Regions from separate parts of the Homo sapiens genome. Here all the other regions are linked to region 2. The links come from fine-mapping of genetic effects on gene expression. A gene starts in region 2. Each other region holds a variant in brackets. All regions are shown on one strand. Distances are between the middles of the regions. Region 1 overlaps ENTREP2 (endosomal transmembrane epsin interactor 2). Region 2 holds the start of ENTREP2 (endosomal transmembrane epsin interactor 2). Region 3 overlaps ENTREP2 (endosomal transmembrane epsin interactor 2).

Evidence for each region.
Region 1: its variant is fine-mapped to the expression of ENTREP2 in thyroid (GTEx, PIP above 0.99).
Region 3: its variant is fine-mapped to the expression of ENTREP2 in thyroid (GTEx, PIP above 0.99).

Annotation. Positions count from the first base shown.
Region 1 is chr15:29,397,245-29,405,428 of GRCh38, reverse strand. All of the region lies in intron 1 of ENTREP2 (endosomal transmembrane epsin interactor 2), which reads left to right. Among named protein-coding and RNA genes, the nearest start is that of NSMCE3, 130 kb to the right of the region's middle. The variant A/C (reference allele first, on the strand shown) is at 3,600.
Region 2 is chr15:29,566,401-29,574,584 of GRCh38, reverse strand. It overlaps ENTREP2 (endosomal transmembrane epsin interactor 2), which reads left to right and starts at 3,606. Exons shown (of 11, transcript NM_015307.2): 1 at 3,606-4,080. The coding sequence starts at 3,862.
Region 3 is chr15:29,421,061-29,429,244 of GRCh38, reverse strand. All of the region lies in intron 1 of ENTREP2 (endosomal transmembrane epsin interactor 2), which reads left to right. Among named protein-coding and RNA genes, the nearest start is that of ENTREP2, 150 kb to the left of the region's middle. The variant T/C (reference allele first, on the strand shown) is at 4,404.

The sequences.
Region 1 (8,184 bases), 170 kb after region 2:
GGGGCGAGTGACATGGTCAGATTTTTTTTTTTTTTTTCTGGAGACGGAGTCTTGCTCTGTCACCCAGGCTGGAGTGCAATGGTGCAATCTTGGCTCACTGCAACCTCCACCTCCCAGGTTCAAACGATTCACCTGCCTCAGCCTCCTGAGTAGCTGGGATTACAGGCATATGCCACCATGCCTGGCTAATTTTTATAGTTTTAGTAGAGGCAGGGTTTCACCATGTTGGCCAGGCTGGTCTCGAACTCCTGACCTCAGGTGATCTGCCCGCCTCGGCCTCCCAAAGTGCTGGGATTACAGGTGTGAGCCACCACGCCCAGCCAGGTTTGCATTTTAAAAAGATGATTCTGCAGTGTGGAAAACAGGTTAGAAGTGACCAGGAGTCCAGGCAGGGAGGGCTTTGTAGGGCTCTTACAGTAGCTCTCCTGCCAGGTGGCAGCCAGGTACCAGGTGGAGGGAGGAACTGGGGGCCGGGGCCCAGGGTGAGCTGGTCAGTAGATGTCCCTGATTTGGATGGATTTGAGAGTGAGATTGGGTGGGGGAGGGACGTGGGGTATCTGGGACCCTGACAGGCACATCTGGGTGAGTGGGGCCTCCTGTGGAGGTAGGGCAGGCTCCAGGAGCACTGGCTGTATTGAGTTAGGCTGCTGGGGAGGCATCCGTCATGTTTCCATCAGGCCAGTGGGTGGACACAGGGATCTGGGAGGAAGAGAGGCTGAGAGAGGCTTAGGGTACCCTGGAGGATGGAGCCAGGGAGGGAACAGGCTCTCCCAGGATAGATACTGCGAGGAGGGGAGGGGAGGTATGGGGAGATGATGGGCCGAGGGAGCCCTTACTAACGAGCAGCTGGGGAGTGTGAGTGGGGGAGGAAGCAAGGGGGCGGCCAAGGCAGGAGGGTGTTCCTTCTGCAAAGCAGGAGTAAGATCAGTGTCAGCCTGCTGGGTGCTGAAGGGGGTTCCTGGGACTCAGCGACCCAGAACTGACCAGACAGGGGAGTTCTGCCTGTGCCAGTGAGGGGAAAGGGGAGCAGGACTGGGGAGTGGAGACGGCTATTACAAGGGTGCTGGGACCACTTAGTCAGATGGGGGGGTTCCCTTCATGTCACCAGCATGGCACGAGTTGTCCATATCCCTACTGTGTTTGGGGATCCTAGAAGTGTCTAAACCCAGGGATGGACATAGGTGATGAGTGAGGGGCATAGACTGAGTCCCTTTCCCAGGGTGTGTCTTTTCACCGGGGCTATCATCAGCGGGAGTGGGCGGCACTGGATGTACTCCTGTGCCCTTGCAGGAATCCAGCCTCGTGCCCCCTTCCTCCCCTGTCCTGGTGGCCCTCTGCCTCCTCTCAGAACCTCGTGGGGACAGGAGATGGGCTCTGCACTCCAGTCTCTGTGGGTGGCGCTGCCTGGTGTGAGCAGAGATGGCAGGAGGGCCACCTGGGTGCAGTACCTGCAGCAGGGAGGAGGGAGAGCAGCCTGCGGGCCCTGCAGCGGCCAGCCAGGGGCAGCAGAGCAGAGCACAGCTCCCAGGCTGGGGCAGAGGGCTGAGAGTGTGCGGATTCAGGCAACCCTTTGGGGGTGCAACCAGGCTCCCTTCAGGGTACAACTGGGCTCTCTGGGCAAGAATTCCGAGAAGGGAGCCTGCTTTGGGGCTAAGTCAGGAATGGGAGCACAGCCTCTGGGTCTGAGAACAGGTTGGTCCTGGGAAAAACCAGGCAGAGGCACCTCTAGGGAACAGTCCTGGATTTGAGAGTTTGCATAAATAGTGTGCGGTTTATGACATTAGTACAGTGGCCTTTATTCATAATGATTTGGAAAAGAAAGAGCAATTTGTCTACCAGACAGCTTCAGTTCCTATTGTATAGTTCCAGTGGATTTAAAAGTTGATGTGAGTCTGTGAATTTGCTTGCATAATTATACTCTGATAGCTTTTCATTACACATAATGCAATTTTAATGGAATTAATGTTCTGTATCAACAAATACATTGTTTTTATTATTGTGCCATGAGGAGATTTCTAAAAGAAGAGAATAAAAGTCATTTGCAAATGGTTTATGTAATACTCTTTTTCAAGCAGGGCAATCTACCTTCCCACTTCATACTTTTTTCTGACAATGGGTTGAGAAAGGGAGGGGGGCAGAGGCTCTTGAATACGTTTGGGTCCTGGTTGGAATTTATTCTTGTAGCTTGCATTTATGTCTGAAATTCTCATTATTCTCTATCAAGGAGCAGCAGCCCACATAGAAGTGTACATGGCCACCTGGCTAACCACTTTCTGTGCAGATCAGGCCCCGTCCCTCCCCTACACACCTTGTTGGTCATCCTGCCACCTTGGACCCCGTCACTGTGCAGGGATTCTGGTTTGCTGCCTCTCACTCAGACTGGCCGCCATTGTTTCCAGAGCCTTTCCATACCTGTTCTGAAGCCATCGGCCCTCACATTGAAGTGGTGGAATTTGTCTGGCCCCGTCCACCTCTCCCGCCTGCTGATGGGAACATTAGAGGGAGTTAGTACCCACTGGCATGGGTTATGCCTCCTCACTTAGGAGGCAGAACCAGCTGTCGCTGGCTTGGGTTTTAATAGTGCGTTTTCTCTGTTGTGTATCAACCATGGGAAACAGAAAAATAAAGAGGAAGCCAAAATCTCACTGTCTGGAGATAACCATGGTAACTTTGAGATGCAGCTGCTGATTTTCTTTATGTATTTGTTTGCTTCTCAGAAGGGAAATTATGCACTTTCCACACCATTTTGCAACCTGCTTTTCCTTCTTCTTCTTTCACTTAGTGTGAACGTTTCTACATGGCATTAAATATTCTCCTGTGGCTGGGCACAGTGGTTCACACCTTTAATCTCAGCACTTTGGGAGGCCACAGCGAGGGGATCACTTGAGCCAGGAGTTCGAGACCAGCCTGGGCAACATAGTGAAACCCTCTCTCTACAAAAGATACAAAAATCAGCCGGGTGATGCATGCCTGTATTCCCTGCTATTCGGGAGGCCGAAATGGGAGGATCACTTGAGCATGGGAGGTGGAGGTCACAGTGAGCTGTGATCATGCCACTGCATTCTAGCCTGGGCTACAGAGGGAGACCTTGTCTCCAATATACATATATACACACACACACACACACACACACACAATACAATATACATATATATGTGTGTGTATATATATATATATTCTTCTATAATATGATTTAATGGCAGCAACTAGGAAGGACCCAATGAATATATGTAATTCCCTCTTGCTGCACACCTCGGTTGTTTCCAGTTTCCAAAATACATAATCCTTTGGTTAATACTGGGAATTCTTAGAAGTAGAATTCTAGGTTCAATGGTATGCAGAGTTTTAAATATGCTTAACATAATACATGCATGGATTAAAGGTTAATATTACAGAAAGTTACACATTTAAAAGCAAGTTCCCCCTCGCCTCCTCCTTAATCTAGTTTCCGATTGTTAGGTTTCTTGTGCGTCGTTCCAAGAGAGCAATGTTTATGTAGTAAATGCATTCATCCATTCCTTCTTGTTTACACAGAGATCCTTCAGTGCACACTGGGCTGTGTCTTGCTTGTCAGTTATTTATCTTCGAGATCATTCCAC[A/C]GTGGCATAAATAGATCTACCTCAAACTTTATAATGCACATATTCATGTTCTATGTAAATACCGAAGTCTTTTTAACTAGCCCTTTATTGCTACTCACTGGTTCAGGTTTTTGTAGTAAACGTCCTTGTGTAAATAGGCTGGCCTGTTTCTGTTAGTATATCCACAGGTTAAATTCCCAGGATTGAAACCATTGAGTATGGGTATGTACAGTTTTTATTTTGAGAGATGCTATGAAATTGTTCCCAAGGAAGGCTACATCAAATTATGCCAACATAAGAAATGTTTAAGAGGAACTTTCTTTCCCCTCTGCCCTTTGCCATCACTGGGTTTTACCAAAACTTCACCAAAATGTTTCCAGTCTCGTTGAAAAAAATACTTATCTTATTGTTTTCACTTGCTTTAGAAAATTCAGTAGGTCTACGCATTCTGTTACATGTTTATTGTTCATTAAAAATCTAAACATCCTATTCATCGTATTCAGCCATTTTTTTCTGTTGTTTCTTTTATTAATTTATACGAGCTCTTTGTAAATTAAGAAAACCTTTTGTCTGTTTATGTATTATAAATATTTTTCCTATTTGAAACCAGCCTTTGGTTTTATGGGTTTTTTTTAACCATAAATGTGTTCATTGGCCCTTTTCAGAATAATGCTACATTAAAAACCACACCAAAATGCAGTGCTTGACAGTAGCGAGCCATTATTTTCTCCTCTGGGTTTGCAGGTCAGCTGGGGTGGCTCCACTTTGGGTTGCAAGCTTCTCATGGGGTTTGTGTCTGTGCCATCTGTCCATTCCGGGGCCCAGGCTTGAAGGGGCAGTGGCCACCTGGGCAAGGAGGAGGGCAAGAGGTAGCACGTAGTGCATCAGAAGGCCCGGGGCGATGGCATGTGCCACTTCCACTCACCACCAGGCATATCCCATGGCCAAGTTTATTCTGGGATGGGGACGGGACTCCACCCACTCTGCAGGAGCCTCCGACCTCACACGTCAAAGGCACAGACTTGTTCTTCTAATGCAGATGCAGAGAGGCCCTGGGATTGAGAACACAGATTCCTCCTACCACAAACAAATGTGGGTTTTTTTAGCCATAAACGTATACATTTTAAATTTATTAATTGTTTCTATTATGTCTTAAAATTGTGTGGTGCCTTAAAAGGCTTACTTCAAGATTCTTTTACAAATTTCTCAAATATTTATGTTTTAATTTATATTTTACTCTTTGATTTCTCTGGAATTTATTTTAATGTTGAAACGTAGAGATTAAGTTTCATTTCTTTCCAAGTGGCTAGCCAGTTGCCCTAGCACTTCTTATTGCGTAGATTTTCTTTTCCCCTTTTTGGTATTTTAATTAGAGTTGCATGGAACTTATACATTATTTAGTCTTTTTGTTTAAAAAATGAATTTCCCTCCCATCTAGTCATGAAGTCTTTTAGGTTCCCCAGTAGATGTTTAAGGATTCCTTGATATTGCTCCTGCTCACCTCTTATTAAATCTGTGTATTCTAAGATATTCTGCCTTTTTGCTTACCATTATAAATGGAATTTTTAATTGTATTCTCTTTTCTAACCAGTCTTTGCTTGCACATATGTAGGAAAGCTGTTTGTCTATAGTTTAAGAGCTTGTGTCCTAACCCTGCCCATCATTGTAACGTTGGGCAAGTCACTTAATCTCTTTGTGCTTTAATTTTCACATATGTGCACGGGCACAAGAGTCACACATACTAATTAGGGTTGTCAGGATAAAGTATAAAAACTTAGTAAGTATATCTGGCATATATTCAGGGCACAATAAATATTGATCCTGTTGACCTTGAACAACATGCGTTTAAACAGCATAGGTCCACTTATATGTGGATTTTCTTCCACCTCTGCCACCCTGAAATGGCAAGACTGAGCCCTCCTCTTCCTCCTCCTCCTCCTGAGCCTACTCAACAAGAAGATGACAAGGATGAAGGCCTTTATGATGATCCACTTCCACTTAATGAATAGTAAAATATATTTTCTCTTCCTTATGACTTTCTTAATAGCATTTTCTTTTCTCTTTATTGTAAGAATACAGCATATAGTACATACGACATCCAAAATGTGAATGTGTGTTAATCAACTGTTTATCTGATTGGTAAGACTTCCAGTCAACAGCAGACTATTACCAGTTAAGTTTTGGAGGAGTGAAAATGTTATACATAGATTTTTGACTGCACAGGAGGTTGGTGCCCCTAACACCCCTCTTGTTCAAGGGACAACTATATATAGTATTATAATTTTCAACATATTGATTTTGTAACCAGGTAACATACTGAATTTTCTTATGGTTTCTTATTCTTCTGAATCAATTCCTTTGGGTTTTCTAATTAGGTGATCACTTTATTTTCAAATAGTAATGATTTTGCTTCTTCTTTCCAATGTTTATAACTTTCTTTTATTTTTCCTTTTTAGTGTTATTAGCTAGATATATTAGTTTTCTATTGTTATGTGGCAAATTGCCACAAGCATAGCAGGTTCAAACAGCTCAACCTTATTATTTCAGAGTTTCTAAGGGTTGGGACTCTGGAGTGTTTTAATTGGGTCCTGTCCTCAGGGTCTGCAGGCTGAAATCCTGGTGAGGCTGGAAGCATCTTCATCCAAAAGCTTTACGAGGGAAAGATCCACTTCCAAACTCCTTCAGGTTGTTGGCAGAATTCATTTTGGGGGTTGTGTGACTCAGCCCTGCTTCCTTGCAAGCTGTGGGTGGGGAAGCTCTCAGCTCTTAGAGGCATCTCACCACATGGCAGCCCACTTCTTCAAGGCCAGCAGCACAACTTCTTACACCTCAAATTGGGACTTCACCAAGGGCCCAGAACCAAAGGTCTTGCCTGATTAGGTCAGGCACACCCAAGAGAACTTCCCTTTTGATGAACTCAACAGCAAACTGATTTGGGACCTCCCATCCACCATTGTCAGGCAGCGTAACCTAATCACATACATATTCACAGTCCCACCCACGGCCCAAGGGAGAGGATTACACAGGGCAGGTACACCAGGGAGTGGGGACCTTGGGGGCCATCTCATAATTCTGCATACCACACGAGTACTTTCAGAATCATTTTGTTTTATTTTATTTTATTTTTGAGACGGAGTCTCGCTCTGTCACCCAGGCTGGAGTGCAGTGGCGTGATCTTGGCTCATTGCAACCTCCGTTTCCCGGGTTCCAGTGATTCTCCTGCCTCAGCCTCCCGAGTAGCTGAGACTATAGCCATGTGCCACCACACTCAGCTGATTTTTGTATTTTTAGTAGAGACAGGATTTTACCATGTTGGCCAGGCTGGTCTAGGACTCCTGACCTCAAGTGATCCGCTAGCCTCGGCCTCCCAAAGTGCTGGCATTACAGGTGTGAGCCACTGCCCCCAGCCCTAAGAGTTCTTTTTTAAAAGAGAGGATGGAGATCAAATTCTATTGGACGTCTTCCATGCATCTACTGAATGAAAGAATTTTTCATTTTCGTCACATTAATATGCAGAACCATCTTTTCATTCCTGACGTGAACCCCCATGTTCTTCATTCTTTTAAATGTACTGCTGAATTCTGTTTTCTAACCTTTTATTTAAAAATGATGTACCAGTAAAATTATCATTTTAATGCACTGTCCTATGAGTTTTTGGCATTTAAATTTGTGTGTTTATATCTAGTATGTGTAGTAGATGAGGAATGCTAAGTTTTTGAGTCTCTGTCTTTCATGTTTGGTTTTGTTTGGATGTTGGCCCTTGAAGTCAGGGAGAACCTGCTTTGTGAGGGGAGGGAATAACTTAATGTAACTTTTGCCAAATAAATAATGAGGGGGAAGGAGTTAAATATCTGAAAGAGTCCAACAATGCCTGATACATGGGGGAAATTCATTAAATATTGATCCAGCACAGGAAAAATAAAATAAAAACAATGTACTTCTGTTTAAAAGCCACTGGTCTGTTCCTTATTTTTGTGATATTTTACAGGTTTGTGATTGTTACACTGACCTTTATAAAGACAATTTGGAAGTTCCCCCTTTTTTCCCTCTGTGCTCAGAAAAAATTTAAACAGCTTTGGAAATCTTCATACGTAGAAGTTTTTGAAGACTTTGCCTACAGCTGTTTGAGCATATTTCCAATTTCTTGGTGTTTATGGGAACAGTTAGTGTTTTGGTCTTTTGGGGAATCAATTGTAGTAATTTAGCAAGTTATCTTTGTCATCCTGGGTTTTGAATTTATTTGCATAGAGCCCATGCTTTGTTTATTATACTTTTTGCCAGTTGACAGCATCGCACCTCTTAATGATGTACATTCTCTACAGCCCTGTAAGTGAGGACCACTGTTCTTTCTAACCACTGCTAGCTTGACAGGCAGCAAGGGACCTCTTATTCCACTTTGCATTTTATTGATTACTTACTTATAAGGTGTTTTTCTGAGTAAATTTTTTTTTCCTTTTTTTAAGATGGAGTCTCACTCTGTCGCCCAGGCTGGAGTGCAGTGGCACAATCTCGGCTCACGGCAACCTCTGCCTCCTGGGTTCAAGACATTCTCCTACCTCAGCCTCCTGAGTAGCTGGGACTACAGGCACATACCACCATGTCTGGC
Region 2 (8,184 bases):
GTGGTGGCTCACATCTGTAATTCCCAGTACTTCGGGAGGCCAAGGTGGGTGGATCACAAAGTCAAGCGATCTAGACCATCCTGGCCAACATGGTGAAACCTTGTCTCTACTAAAAATACAAAAATGAGCTGGGCATGGGGGCGTGCGCCTGTAGTCCCAGCTACTCAGGAGGCTGAGGCACGAGAATCGCTTGAACTCAGGAGGTGGAGGTTGCAGTGAGCTGAGATCATGCCACTGCACTCCAGCCTGATGACAGACTGAGACTCTGTCTTTAAAAAAACAAAAACAAAGAAACAAAACCCAAAAGAACAATGGTTTTGTCTATTAGTCCCATCTGATCCAGGGAGAATAAAAGCCATAACTTGGTTCCAGGGGTCTCCAAGAATCTTCTGTAACACTAGGACATGTATGATTATAATGCTTTTACAAGAGACAAACACTGAAGATCAAAGAGAGTCAATGAGTTGTCGTGATCAGTGCCAGGGAGGCTAAGCTCAGGCCAGCACCCTCTCTCCCTACCTTTCTCCTTCCCTTCTTTCTGTTCTTTTCCTCCCTTCCCTTTCATTCTTCTTTCCTTTCTTTCTTTATGATTCACTCCCATGAAATCAACTCACTTTAACTACTTTTATCTCCCTATTTATATCTCCAAATTGCAAGTGTTCATCAAGGTAACTTTGGCTGTTGCATTTAATACAACAGGATTAAAAAATTCTGTAAAACATAGTATGAAATAAAAATTTTTGGAGGCCATTGATTTGGACAGAGCTCCCACCAACAGACCAAATTAAAATGGAGTCAGTCATGCTAAAGTCCTAATCCACCAAGCTGAAACTCGGTTGTTTAGCTGACTTTATGAGAAATCAGGAGAAGGAGAGGAAGAGGGGTGGGGGAAAGACAGACACAGAGAGAAAGAGAGAGAGAGAGAGGGAGAGAGAGAGGGGGGGAGAGAGAGAGAAGAGAGAGAGAGAAAGAAGAGAGAGAATAGACAAATATCCAGAAAGGCCAGTTTGAGCAGACATGATAAGGAAGTTCCGTTTTAACCATTATGGGGAAAGTAACTTTGAAACAACTAATCTGCTTTTTGTTCCTCATTTCTACTTTCTTCAATCTTTTTCTGTCTATACATACTCACTGCCCACATGGCAGAGTGGAGTTCTCTGAACCTCTTATGATTCTGAGGGCTGCCTTATTCATGAATTGTTCATTGTTTAAGTAAACTCTGTTAAATTTATTTGTCTAAAGTTTTCATTTTATCAACAAAACTGCTTTTTCATTGATAGAAATGTGAAGTAAGTTTAATTTCTAGATCAGTCTCTCCCTTTGGATGCAAACGAAATTTTACAGCGAAAGTAGATCCCTCTCCTAACCCACCTTCACCAAAATCTCCTGCTGTATTGCTTGGAGCTCTCTTTCCGTACCTTTCTTAAATAAATAAATAAAACAAATCAATTCACATATATTTTGGAAGCATCTCTCATTCATAAATGGGAGATCACTGGAGGTCACCAACTGGCTCCCCCTTCTGTTTAATTCATCACTGACACCTCCGAAACATCTCCCAAACACACCCAATTCTCGACATCTCCACTAACCCCACTTTAATCCAAAACACTATCACCTCTTGCCAGCTGACAGTAACAGCCTCTGAACACTCTTTCACTTGGGCACCCCTCAACCCATTTTTGGTATTGTGGTCAGAAAACTCTTTTCAAATCTCCTTATCATCTGATTCCTTTTTTTTGGTGGGGGTGGGGTTGGGGGGGCACTGTGTAGTCTCCATAACACTGAACCCAGTGTGCCGCCAGTCTTCCCACTAGACCGAAAGTTCTCTGAGTACAGGGGGCTTGCAACTCATTCTTCGATCTTCAGTGCCTGGCACATAGTGGGTGTATACTATTTTTTGAATAGTATACAATGTCAATAAACTGTAATTCACTAATTTGTTAGGCTATTGTGTGTTTCTCTCTGAATCCCTTAAAGGCAGGGATTTTTGTCTGTTTTGTTCACTGATGTACCCTAAGAACGTAAAAAAAAAAAAAGCCTTATGATTAGAGAGCTCTTTATGAACTTTTGTTGGAGGAATGAATGAACGGATGAATGAATGAATGAATGAATGGGGGAGATGATCAAATGCGAACATAACTTCCTGCCAGTCCAGGGTCATGCCTTGTATTGTTTCAAGCTCTTAAAAAGTGCTGCACTGCGAACTTCTAGGCAGAAAATGTCTCCAGGAAATTGGAATTTGTACTGGAGTGCTTTAAACAATGCCGGCCAGAGGCTTAGTCCTGTTAAAGATAAGAACTGGGGGAGAAGGCAGCGTTTGGCCACGGGCCAGCATTTTGAGATCAGTCACTCTATCTGTGGAATTCCCTACCCCCTGTTCATCCCTTGGCCATCTCGTTAAATTGGAAAATAAATCCCATCCCTGCTAAAGTGTTGGCTGATAAAGGCTTGAGCTATAGCCCCTTCAAGGGGAATTTGCATTTTAATAGAGGATCGTCAAGCCCCAAAGGAATCAATATCTCTAACGGTGAAATTTCAAGCACCAGCAACCGAGATATTTTGGGACTACACTCTCTAGCGTTTCTCATCCAACAGTAAGGTCTGCTAGAAAGACACGGAAGAATGGTCTCAGGAAATGACCGGCCGTTTCCCTTTATTACTCTGAACTTTGCCTTTTCACGTCTGGTCCCTTCAGACTCCCTAACGCTGGTGATCTCTTAATCTGTCAATGCAGCCCTTTTCAACACAAGCAGAGTCTTAAAGTTGGCTCATCAACAGGGCCACAAAGGAATTATGGCAATCAAAACTTGCAGGATTTCCCGGTATTCCAAGGGAGCCAGTACTTAGATATTTTAAACTCTATGTTGGCAAGAGGGAGTGGAGATGGTTTAATCGGTTATTAATGATATTGCGCATTTAAATTCGTTTTGTGCAATTTTTTTTTAAAGCCCAAACTTTTAACTTGTATCAAAAGCATGCAAACCAAAGGTGGGTAAGGGACATCGTGTGTGTCCTGGCAATGTTCTCGGAATGTCCTCCAGAGCTGAGTTCTCTCAGCGGATGGCTTGGGAGATTCTCGAACTGCAGAAAAGCAGCATCTTGGATCTTGGATTTTTGCATTCAAGAGGCTCCTGTTCGCCACACCTGCGGCCCAGCGCTCGGAATTTCCCTCCTGTCTGCTCCCAGCCCGTCTCCCCGTCCTCAGCGCCCCGCGCGCCCATCCCGAGCCGTCCCCAGGCTCTGAAGGCTCGGCTGGCCCGCTGCCGCTATCGGGCCCCTCCGCGCAGCCGACCCAGGGCTCCGCCGCGGAGGCTGATGCCGTTGCCCTTGATGCGCTGCCGCCCCCGCTCTCCTTCCGCAGACCTGCAGCCGCCAGGGCGCGAGGCGTGAGCGCGGAGGCTGGGACGCCAGGACCGCACCTGCGCCTTCCCCGCCCCTCTCCCGGCTCCCGGGTCCCGGCTCCCGCTCCCGCCCCAGCTGGGGCCCAGCGCACGGCGGCGGGGCTCGCGCCCGGGGACGGCAGCGGCTCGCGCCCGGTACGGCAGCAGCGGCGGCGGCTCGCGCCCGCGCTCGGGCCGGGGAGCGCGCGGGGCGGGCGGGGGAGGGCGCAGCGCGGCGCGGCCGGCGGGCGGGCGGCGCGGCGGCGGCGGCATGGGCGCGGGCACCGGCGGGGGCTGCGGGCGCCCGGCTCCCCGCCCGGCCCGGCCCGCTCCCGGCGCGCGGCCGCCGCAGCCCTGGCAGCCGGCTGGGAGGCCGTCCCTGCACCCGGCGCAACTTGCCTCGGACCCTCTGTGAGGAGAGGCGGCGGCGCGCGCCGGGCCGGGCGGGAGCGGGCGAGGCGTGCGGGCGCCCGGCGCGATGCCTCCGGCCGGCGGCCCCCGAGCGCCGCGTCCCGCCGCGCTGCCCCGCAGCCTGTCCCGCCTGCGCGAGTGCCCGGGCCGCTCCCGCATCGTGCTGGCGCTCGGGGCCACGCAGATGGCGCTCGGATGCCTCATCGTGGCAGTCAGCTTCGCCGCGCTGGCGCTCACCACCTCGGCCCGCGTCCGCCACTCCTGCCCCTTCTGGGCAGGCTTCTCGGTGAGTGTCCGCGACCAGGCGGGGACGGGCTCCGGGGACTGCGCGGGCCGGGGGGGCTAGGCGCTGCGGCCGCCGGGACGCCACCGCGGGCGGCAAGTTCCGGCGGCCAACGCCGGGGCCGAGTAGCTGCAGCGCGGGGCGCAGTTCGAAACTCCGAGCAGAATAACTCCAGGGCCCGGCTCGCCGCTCTCGGAGCATCGCGTTCCCGCTCCTATTGCGCTGATTCCCGGAGTTACTTTTCTTGGAGGAAACAGCAGCCAGGCGCCCGCCGTCCTCCGAGCCCGCAGCGGCCGGAGGGAGCGCCGGGGACCGCGCGCGCCGGGGACACGACCTCGCCATCCGAGCGGCCGCGGCCGAGGCGAGGAGGTGGGAGCCGAACCCGGAGCGGAGCAGCATGTGGGCGCGCCTCTCACCCTCGCGGCGGCCCTGACCGGGGGCGGTGGGGGTGGGGGGTGGGGTGGGGGGGCGGGGGAGGGGCGCCTCCCGTCGGGTTTTGGGTCAGCCCGGATATCGGGGATCGGCCGGGCGGCCCCTGTGGTCGCTCGCTGACTTGGCTTCGGGGACTTCTGGTTTCCCGCGTCCGCCCAGAACGGCGTGGTTTGTGGGCGACGGGACTGGGCAGGCGACCCGCATCCGGCGTCCTGGGGCAGGGGGCAGGCAAGGGGGGGCGGCGTGCTTTCTGAGCTCCAGACCTTAAGGATGACCGATTTTCAGACTCTTAACCACCAAATCAGAGAAGCCAGTGGTGAACAAATCTCCATAGAAGAAAGACGTCTCGATTAAAGTGACTGTCCCCAAGAGTTAATTTTTGGCGTTTTGTAGCATTTTGATGAAAGTCGGTTTTTTTCCTATATTAACAAAGAATGGACGTTATGGGAATGGGAGAGATATATATGCAGAGCAGATATTTATGAAGAGAGGCACTTGTTCTGAGAACTCTTGACATCTGTAACTGCATTTGGTGGATCGTGCTGAAATACATCGCATAGGCTTGTAAACTCAGTATGTTTTACTTCCATCTACAGAAATCCAAACCAATCCTTTAAAACTAATGTTTGCTATTTGTTCTTGAGTTTTAAAATTTGAAAAATTCGTCCAGCTTTGCTTATTTGTTTATTTCATAATGGTCTTTGTTTTTTAAGTTCATTGCATGGCTTTTACCATAAGATCTGAGCAAAATTGCCTCTGGAACACCTCGATCGATACAGGTGTGGTTGTTCATCCTAATGGGAGTATTAATTTTCGAAGCGTATTTTAGATCAAGGGTGAGCCTTGGAGAGCTGAATAGGAACAACAGACTGTGTGGTCATAGCTGGGAGTATTCAAAGAAAAGAGAGGAGGTTGGAGGCAAGCACACGGGAGCCATGATTTAAATGCCCCTCTCTATATAGTTTTCACACATCTATTGCTCAGTTTTTACCATTATTTAATATGCATTGTTTTCATGTCTGTCTAGCGGGCACTGAGGTTTAAGTCTGCTGGAACCAGCCTACAGGTGGCAGACTGGTGAATTAGCTCCACTTCCTGGCTCCTCCCTGAGCCCGCCCTTCCTGGTTTAGCCTTGGGTTCCCAAGGGTGTGGAGAGAGAACTGCCTTTTAATAATAAACCTAAAGGGGAAAACATTAATTGGACACAGTAGAAAAGCTTATTTATGTGAAAAATGCACATCATCCCCTACATTTTAGTTTAAAGAGTTAAATAAATGTGTAAAACAGTTAATTCAGTTTGCTTTTGCAGTGTTATTCTCTTCAACAGCTCTAACCTATTCTTTTTTTTTTTTTTTTTTTTTTTTTGCCTTAAGAGGCAGGATCTCGCTCTTTTGCCCAGGCTGGAGTGCAGTGACACTATCATAGCTCACGGCAGCCTGGAACTGCTGGGCTGAAGCGATCCTCCTGCCTCTGCCTTGCAAGTAGCTAGGACTACAGGTGTGTACCACCATGCCTGGCTAATACTAAAAACATTTTTTTTTTAAGAGATGGGGTCTCGTTATGTTGCCCAGGCTGGATTCAAACTCAAACTCCTTATCTCAAGGGATGCTCCTGCCTCAGCCTCCCAAAGCACTGAGATTACAAGCTTGAGCCACTGTGCCCGACCTATAACCTGTTAGTTCTAGCTTCCTATGATTCTGAGCAATTCCACACAGTTCTCCTATGTATGGACATTACTCTAGGGTCTGGGGATCAACAATGAACACAGCACACTCTGCTTACATTTTGGAGATTATAAGATGACTTCTGTCCTGAGTCCTCCATCTCCCACCCTCCTGTCTGTTTTTTCATGGGCTTATTTTCTGTCTTCAAACTTACTTTGCTGCAAGCACCTTGAAAGTTCTTTCAGTACGGTACAGTGTATACCATTTTTCATCTGTTGTCTACAACACTTTGCAGAAATGATGATTGGTTCCTGCTGTGTTGAGACAGGTTTGCATGTTAACATGGTTGTGAGTGGGGAACACTGACCCATTGCCATATATATGCCTGCCCTCTGAGATTGGTGCAACTGCCTTGCCAAGGTTGTTCGTCATTTAAGAATGGCAGCTGGGATGGCTGGGCTGGCTTCATAAAGAAATCCATACTGTGGGGCTTAGGGCTGCCCTCTGGTTTCTCTAAATCTTCTAAAATGAGACCTATGTGCTCTTTAGCAACATATGGCTTTCTAGGCCCTCTCTGTGGTTTGCACATGGTGAAAACCCATTGTAGAAACAACTCTCCTGGATTTAAGAAACAAAATTATTAGCTAAGACAGACAGCCCATGCTTAGTGAGCACTTACTTATTGTGTGTGTAATAGCCTGTTACTCTGGTGGCCTCTGCCTGCTGGTGCTCAGGGTTTTGTGTGGTTCCCTCTCCCTGAGTTTGGACTGGGCCTCTGATTTGCCTTAGCCATTGGAACACAGCAGAACTGAGCCTGACTCTGTTCCAAGCCAAAGCCTCAAGAAATCTTGGTGCTTCTGCTGAGTAAACTAAGGGGAAGAGGGATGAGTGACTTACCCAAGGTCACTCAGCTATGAAGTAGCTTTGAACTTAGTTGCTCTGACTTTTTAGAGGCCAAACTCCTGCTAACGATTAGGCAGAAGGGGATGAAATAAAGCATGCTGGTAAAGGGGTCCACTTTAGCAAGGAGGCTCTCTCTTTCTTAGGAAAAGCATAAAACATGCCTGGAAAGGTGAAGATACAAGAGAAATTTAAGGAGCCATTCCACTGGACCAAGTTGAAGAAGTTTAAGGTTGAAAGGGGAGGACTCGGCAAGGTTGGAGACAGGGGTGGGTGTCAGGCCTGGCCGGAGGTCTGTGATGAATACAGAGCTGTGCAGTTTCCATTGTTTGAGGACCCCCTGCAGGTGGTTTTCCTGTGCCGGGCTGTGCCAGCCAGTGAGTCAGCAGGTGGATCAGTTCCCTTGTGGATAGATGTCCTGCCCATTTTGAGAGGTAATGAGCTGTGTTCATAGTTTAGAAGACTAAGAGAGCTGGATGGAGGTCTTGAATAGTTATCCTTTAATAGAGTAGTTTGTTATTTTTCTTGGAGATTTTATTAATGCCCAGAACTCAGGGACAAACAGCTACATTGTGAGTTATCCACATTACCAGTTACATATGTTGGTAAAGACGTAGCCATTGGAAGCTGACTCTGTGTGTGTGTGTGTGTGTGTGTGTGTGTGTATTTTTCCTTTAAAAAGCAACTCCACTGGATTTTTTTCATACTCTGAAATTAATATATAAAAAGTAAAAATAACTGAAGATAAAAAAGTGACTGGGCATGGTTGGCTCATGCCTGTAATCCCAACACTTTGGGAGACTGAGGCGGGCGGACCACTGGAAGTCAGGAGTTGGAGACCAGCCTGGCCCACATGGCGAAACCCTGTCTCTACTAAAAATACAAAAAATAGTCAGGTGTGATGGTGGGCACCTGTAATCCCAGGTACTTGGGAGGCTGAGGCAGGAGAATTGCTTGAGCCCAGGAGGCGGAGGTTGCAGTGAGCCAAGATCACTCCACTGCACTCCAGCCTGGGGGACAAGAGTGAAACTCCATCTCAAAAAAAATAGGTTGGGTGCGGTGGGTCACGCCTGTAATCCCATCACTTTGGGAGGCCGAGGCAGGTGGATCA
Region 3 (8,184 bases), 150 kb after region 2:
ATCTCAAGATAGATGGATGGATGGATGGATGGATGGATGGATGGATGGATGGATAGATAGACATCTCAAGATGGATGGATGGATGGATGGACAGATAGACATCTCAAGATAGATGAATGGACGGATGGATAGATAGACATCTCAAGATGGATGGATGGATGGATAGACAGATAGGCAGATAGATAATTAACAGTGCAGGCATAGGATGCAGGAGACCTATCATTTTGACAGCTAATGTAAAAATAGATCTGGGTATGTCAGTTGAGAGCAAGTTCAAAGTGGGCAGATCTCATCAGCCACCCAGCAAATCCTCAATGCTGCAAATTCTGCTGCCTCTCTGTGCAGTGAATGTTGTTGCTTGTGACACTGGTGATCCGTGACTATATTTAAAACCTTTTATTTGGCCAGCCTTAGGGATGACTGATAGCTGCATTTTTGTATTTCCTGGTTTCTAAATGGGATGCCGTTTCCTGACATTTTCATTACTCTCACTTTTGTGTGTGCTGGTGAATGGCAGCACAGGAAACCCTGCATTATGAAGTCTGTCAGTGCTGGCGCTATTTATTATAGAAATAGTGACACATTTGGAATTTGGGCATGTACTAAGAGGACTGGCCTTTTAAGTTCTGTTTCCTAATAATGTATTTAAACAATTCAGAAATTTTACTTTTTTTTTTTTGGGAAAAGAGCTTAAGACAGATGGAAAAGTGAAGCTTTAAAACATGGAAGTGGCTGGGCACGGTGGCTCACACCTGTAATCCCAGCACTTTGGGAGTGCAAGGAGGGTGGATCACCTGAGGTCAGGAGTTCAAGACCAGCCTGGTCAACATGGTGAAACCCCATCTCTGCTAAAAATCCAAAAAAATAGCCGTGTGTGGTGGCGAGCACCTGTAATAACAGCTACTCGGGAGGCTGAAGCAGGAGAATCGCTTGAACCCATGGGGCAGCGGTTGCAGTGAGCCAAGATCGAACCACTTCACTGCAGCCTGGGCGATAGAGTGAGACTCTGTCTCAAACAAACAAACATGGAAGTATGTTTTTTGAGTGTATCGGAGTCTCCACAGGGTGTCATCTTGATTCTGCTGTGGAAAGTGGACTTGGCTTTGGGTTTGACTTGTATTTTTCCCCAATGATTCTTAGACATTTCTGTTCTGTCATTTAACTTTCCACTTAAAAATGAATTCTGGGTAGGTCTAGGTACATACTGCAATATTTTATCTTAATAAATTGTCAAGGATGGTGTTTTGTTTATATTATGATATTTATCACTCTGTTGGTTTCGGACTTTTAAGGTGATGGGTCTGAAGAGTGTCCTAAAGGAAAAAGCTCCAGCCACCATGTAGTGGGTGTGATTTGGTGTTTCTCACCAGGCAGTCTGCTGGTTCTTGTTCAAAGTGCAGGTTTCTGGGTGTATAGGGAGACTCGTACCCCCAACCCCACTGATGTCCACGTCCTTCCTAATCGCTGGAACCTATGAATGTATTACTTTACATGGCAAAAGGGGCTTTGTAGATGTGGTGAAGTTATGGGTTTGGAGATGGGGAGGTTATGCCGGGTATCTGAATGGGTTCAAGGTAGTCACAAGGGCCCTCATAAGGGAAAGAGGGAGGCAGGAGAGTCAGAGAAGGAGAGGCGAGGATGGAAGCAGAACTCAGGAGTGCAGTGGGGCCACAAGCCAAGGGCTGAGGGCAGTCTCTGGAAGCTGGAGAAGGCAAGGAAAGGGACTCTCCCCTGGAGCTTCCAGAAGGAGCTCAGTCCTACCAACCCAACCCATTTTGGACTTTTGACCTCAAAAGCTGAAAGGTGATAATTTTGTATTGTTTTAAGCCACTGAGTTTTTGGTCATTGGTTGCAGCAGCAATAGGAAACTAACAGATAGGGCTATATCTCAGGTACCCCAAGTTGGACTCCGGGGGTTGGGGCTCAGGCAGTCTTCGTTTTCAACCCCGCTTCTCCATGATTCGTATGAACAGTGGAGGAGAGGAAATCATTGCTCTCACTTCTTTGAAAGTTGTTGCAGGATAACGATTAGGCCTGGAAAGCTTTGAGAATGGAAAAATAACAACAGCAATTAATAGTATATATACTCAGTGTTTATAAAGACATACACATACTTTTAATTATAGAGCAGAAATTGCTAGTTTGCTTTAAATATAACAAAATAAATCACCTAGGGTCAAAGAACAAAAAGAAACCAAGCACCCATAAGATAATAAGGTCCATCTGGAGGCCACATGGCTACAGTTTTCTTTGGCCTTCTCTCATCACTTATTTCCTGCAGACAGTAGGTCAAAGCCATCATGTTTAATTCTGATTGGACAATTCTCTTCTACTTCTGTATGTAATGCACTGCCCCAAGCTTTGGGCATCACACTGACCACTCGGCGCCCAGTGTGCATAGCATTTTGAAGTATTTGTGAATGTTTAGGATATATCACATACCAACTCCAAAAGCCAATGGAGTAAATGGCACACAGTGAAACAGAGAAATGGAATAAAACTTCAAAACAACTCTGGCTTATGACCTGTGAGATCTGAGAGGTGCCACATTGCAAAAGAAGAGACTGTCAAGTGCAGTGGAGGCAGACGGAGGACACGAAAATGTTACTGTGAGAAGGAAACCAGATGACCAACATTGGATTAGTGAATTAGGATATCACCTGGGGGATCTATTTTTCAACTGAGAGGAATGAGACAAGATGGGGAAATTAGGAGAGAAAAGCTAAAGGTCATGGAAGATACATGTAAGACGTCAGACAGGCATATAGGAGATGTTTTTGTTTTAGGTTTGATTCATGTAATAGAACATTTTCTGAATTTCAGTAATCAAAAAAAATCAAAGATAAGCGTTAAACAAGACAAAGCAGGCTACAGAAAATAATCACATTAATACTAGATTTTAATCCATAAAGTCAAATGCTAGAAGATAATGCAGCAACATTTGCATATTTTAGAAGGAACAGGTTGTTAAGCAAGATTCCTCTAGGCTTTCTGTATGCAAGATTTCTAAGCTCATGTATGTGAATGGGTACATGAAAGTGATTTTCAGAAATACAGTGGACTCCAAATTTCTGCATACCATTTCTGAATAAAGGAAATGACTTGTAGTGCACAAGCCAAATGAGGAAAATTATTATTAAATATTTAATACCTTTACTTGTTATTAAAATAAATCAATTATTTAATTATTAAAATAATCAATTATCTTTATGTAATAATTATATAAATTCAATAATTTATAGAATTATATAAATTTAATAATTATATTTAGTTATTAAAGATAAACAGGAAGCATTGGTATAAATACTGCAGAAGTAAGCAATTAAACCAATGAAACATAAAGTTAAGTTTGAATTGTTGACACTAATGTGGTTGTTTTGATAAAATCTGGGAGGCAGGTTGAGGTAGAAAATTTTGCCATGTTGCATAGAGACTATAGATATCTATGCTATTGATATATACTTATTAGATATATAATTTCAAACATAGATTTAAAATTTTGGTTAGAAAATTGATATATAATTTCCAAATCATTAGAAAAAGCAAACAACAAAAATTGAACAAAATAGCAAAAGACAGGAAAATTAGAGAAACAAAAATTAAGGAAATATAGTAAATAAGCTAGGAAATAATTCAGTTATGTTAGCTACCACGCTAAAGGTGTTACTTAATTTCCTCTATTAAAAGACAGCACTTTTAGATTGGGGTAAAAAGCAAAAATCAGATAGATACTATTGGCAAACAAACAAACACAAATAGCTTAAAATAACAGACCAGGGCATTGGCAAAGAGCTATCTGGCAGTGGCCAAGTAAAGGAAAGTAGGACTGTCCACGTATGATCAAATAGAATGCAATACAAAAATATAACTCCAAACAGGATAAAGAAGATTTAAAACTAGTCATAAAAAGCCAGGCGTGGTGGCTCAGCCTGTAATCCCAGCACTTTGGGAGGCTGAGGCAGGCAGATGATGAGGTCAGGAGATCGAGACCATCCTGGCTAACACAGTGAAACCCCATGTCTATTAAAAAATACAAAAAAAAAAACAAAAAACCTGGACGTGGTGGTGGGTGCCTGTAGTCCCAGCTACTTGGGAGGCTGAGGCAGGAGAATGGCGTGAACCCTGGAGGTGGAGCTTGCAGTGAGTGGAGATCATGCCACTGCACTCCAGCCTGGGCAACAGAGCGAGACTCCATCTCAAAAAACAAAAACAAAACAACAACAACAAAAACTAGTCATAAAAGTATAATCACCCCATTATGGTGTTTGCAGATCTGTCATCTGTCTGATGGGTTTTGATGATGGAAATAGAATGTACTGTGTCAGTAGAATTAGAAAACCATGACTTGGTCAGCAAGAACAAGATACTTGGAGACACAGACATGATAAGGCTTGCTGGTCTTG[T/C]GCCTGCAGTGGGAGAGACACTGGCGAGGATTTTGGTAGCAATTTGTGCAGAAGACAACTTTCAGAAAGACTCCAGTTGTAAAGAAAAGGAAATGTGTTGAAAAAGCTGTGAGCTTGAGGATTCCTGGGGCACTGCCTGGTGTGTCTCCTCTGCCTCATGGTTACCAACGGAATAAATAAACCAGGACTTTGCAGGGCCCCTCTCAGTACCTCTTCTCCCTGTTGTGGATGACCTGGTGTTGGGTCACTACAGGTCAAGACAGCCTTTACCTTCTCTTGTGCTCCTTTCACCTGAGAGGTTGGCGCCTACCCAGACTGGGCAGAATAGAGTCAATAGCAATATTAAAAGAGGAAGCCAAGTTGGGCTTCTGGGTCAGGTGGGGATTTGGAGAACTTTTGTGTCCAGCTAAAGGATTGTAAATGCACCAATCGGCACTCTATAAAAACACACCAATCAGCACTCTGTAAAAGGGACCAATCAGCACTCTGTAAAAGGGACCAATCAACGCTCTGTAAAATGGACCAATCAGCAGGATGTGGGCGGGGCCAAATAAGGGAACAAAAGCCACCCAGTCAGCGGTGGGAGCCCCATGGGGTCCACTTAGGTAGTGCAGAGGTTTTGTATTTTTGCTGCTCTTGGCAATAAAGCTTGCTGTTGCTCACTCTTTGGGTTTGCATTACCTTTATGAGCTATAACTCACATTGAGGGTTTGCAGCTTCCTTCCTGAAGTCAGTGAGAGCACAAACCCGTGGGAAGGAAAAAGTTCCAGACGCATCTGAAAGAACAAACTCTAGACACACCATCTTTAAGAGCTGTGACACTCACCGTGAGGGTCCACGCCTTCATTCCTGAAGTCAGCAAGACCAAGAACCCACGGGGAAGAATAAATTGCGGACACAATGTAAGCCTCATTTTTTTTCCCATTGAGATAGTCTGAATGTACATCATTGGAGGATGGGTGTCCACATACGTCTGTGATATATTTTTAAAGGAAAAACTGTGTACTGTGAACGGAGTCCTTAGAAAAAAATCAAATTTTTTTTTTGAGACGGAGTCTCGCTGTCGCCCAGGTTGGAGTGCAGTGGCGCGATATCTGCTTACTGCAGCCTCCGCCTCCCAGGTTCACGCCATTCTCCTGCCTCAGCCTCTGGCGTAGCTGGGACTACAGGCGCCCGCCACGTCGTCCGGCTAATTTTTTTTTTTTTTTTTGTATTTTTAGTAGAGATGGGGTTTCACTGTGGTAGCCAGGATGGTCTCGATCTCCTGACCGCGTGATCCGCCCGCCTTGGCCTCCTGAAGTGCTGGGATTACAGACGTGAGCCACCGCGCCGGCCCAAATAAACTTTGTAAACCAAAAAATCTAGGTATGAATACATTTAAACATTGCCATTGGTTTATCTTTGTGTATGGTGGTGTGGGTGAATTTTACATTCTTCTCTAGAATTTTTCATGTTAACTAAATTTAGCAGCATTAGGGTGTACTATTTATATGTATAGTCAGAAGAAGGAATTTTCATTGTGAAGGAAAAAAACCCTAACTTATCTCTCTCTGAATTCCCACTATAATTTCCTATGCCAGCATTTTCACTAACATGTATAGTAAACAACTGTGTATACAAGATGTTAAATGTGTATTCTGAGTTAAAAAGATTCCAAGGTCACATTTGGGGCAGGCGGGGTTATTCAGGGTTGAAGCATTTTCTTTCCTGTGGTGTGCATTTTAGCTTGACTGTGTTATTCTCATGTGCACCGTGACTCTGCATGAAAAGGGTATACTATGTCATGTTTTCAGACCTCGTTGACGTGGAACCCATTTTTATATGTGTTCTTTGATAAACTAATATTTTGTAAAACATTAAAGACACACTCACCTATCCCGAAATTATACATTGGATTCTGCATCTCAGATTCCATCTTGATCCCCTAGCCTTCTTAGGTACACCGGTTCCATTGGCCACAATGTCCCAAACTCTCTCCATACTTACTTCTAATTCCATGGAGTACAAGTTCCATCCCCCTGGATCCATCATGCTCAGGGGCTGTCTCAGCACTGTTCTTTCTCTCTTACCTAAGTTTCACACTCAAAACCTTTGTGAGTCCTTGTCACCTTCACTCCACCCTGGTCTACTCTTACAAAGGTATCTTTGTCCAGATAAATTTACTGATGATTTTGTAGGTGAGATGGTAGAGGGTGGGGGTAGGGTTACCTTGCATAGCAGAGAGCCAGCAACTTCCGACATTACAGAGCCTCAGAGTTCTTTGGCCTTACAGCCACTGGGATAGTTGTCTTGTACTCTACCCTTATTTAACACGCAAACTTGCTGACTTTCCCCCTACAAACTCCTAGAGTTTACCCTGCCGTTCTCTTTATTCAAGTCCAAGAATTTAACCTTTCTTTCTGCTCTGTAATTCAAAGTCCACTGCCATAGTGTTGCTGAGCCCCCGGAGAGGCAGGAGAGCAGATAATGGTATGTGGGGTCCCCATCCTGGGTGAGAGATAACCTGCTCAGCACCAGTCAGTGGCCATGTCCTCATTCTTTTTTTTCTTTTTTTCTTTTTTCTTTTTTTTTGACACGGAGTTTCACTCTTGTTGCTCAGGCTGGAGTGCAATGGCGCGACCTCGGCTCACTGCAACCTCTGCTTCCTGGGTTCAAGCAATTCTCCTGCCTCAGCTTCCAGAGTAACAGGTATTACAGGTGCCCACCACCATGCATGGCTAAATTTTTTGTATTTTTAGTACAGACAGGGTTCCACCATGTTGGCCAGGCTGGTTTTGAACTCCTGACCTCAGGTGATCCACCTGCTTCGGCCTCCCAAAGTGCTGGGATTACAGGCGTGAGCCACCGTGCCCGGCCCCATGTCCTCATTCTGAGTTCTCTTTCAGGCCTCCACCATGCTGTCTTTAGCATCTGGCAGGATGTTGGCTGCTGTCCAGGACTTAGAGTCCGTTACTCATGAAGTCATAATTGAAGAAATTAGCTGATGTTAATCCTTTTGGTATTTTGAGGGTAGAAACATCAGATTTGCTTTTTCCCATGGCACCATGAAAAATTGAGAGATCTGGGAGTTTTGGCTTAATTTAGGAGAGTAAGCTCTCTTTATATTAAAAGAAGTTAAATGTAAAATGATCAGCTGTTTTCCTGTAGGTTTTATAGATGCTAGTGTTACGTAGTTTGAGCATTGTAAGTTTCATATTACTAAGGAAAAATATTCATGTCTATGTGTTTTTAAAGTTAATTTTTATGTCATCTAATGAAATGAAAACATAGTTTAAAAAGTCAAATAGCAAATAGGAAAACCCAGTAGTTCCCTGCTCTAACTTGTGCAGAGGCAACTACTTTTAATTCAGCTTTTTTCCCTGGGACTTACTACGTCTCCACATTTCTAAATAAGATACAAATTCTGCTATCTTTGATTAATTGGTTGTAGATATCATTGTAGGTTTCTAATTATGGCAGTGAGGATTTAGCTTTTCATTTTCTCTCTGGTTCCCCTTCCTCATCCTCCAGAGTGGGTATGTTACAAGTTTAATTTAGTCAGTATTTGGATTTATACCTATGCAGATATTATTCACTGCAGAGCTGTGTAGAGTGGTATGTTCACTTTCACTAACTTACTCTTGAAGTCAGTACTTGCCTCGCCTTAATCAATAGCTCCTCTTGCAATAGCCTCTCAGTAATACTGACTCAGCTCAGCTCTAGTAGGTTATCTTTCTGTTCCCATTTTCTTCTCCAGGACTCATTTTCTTCTCTTGGGTTGGTGGCTTTCTAGGCCTGTACA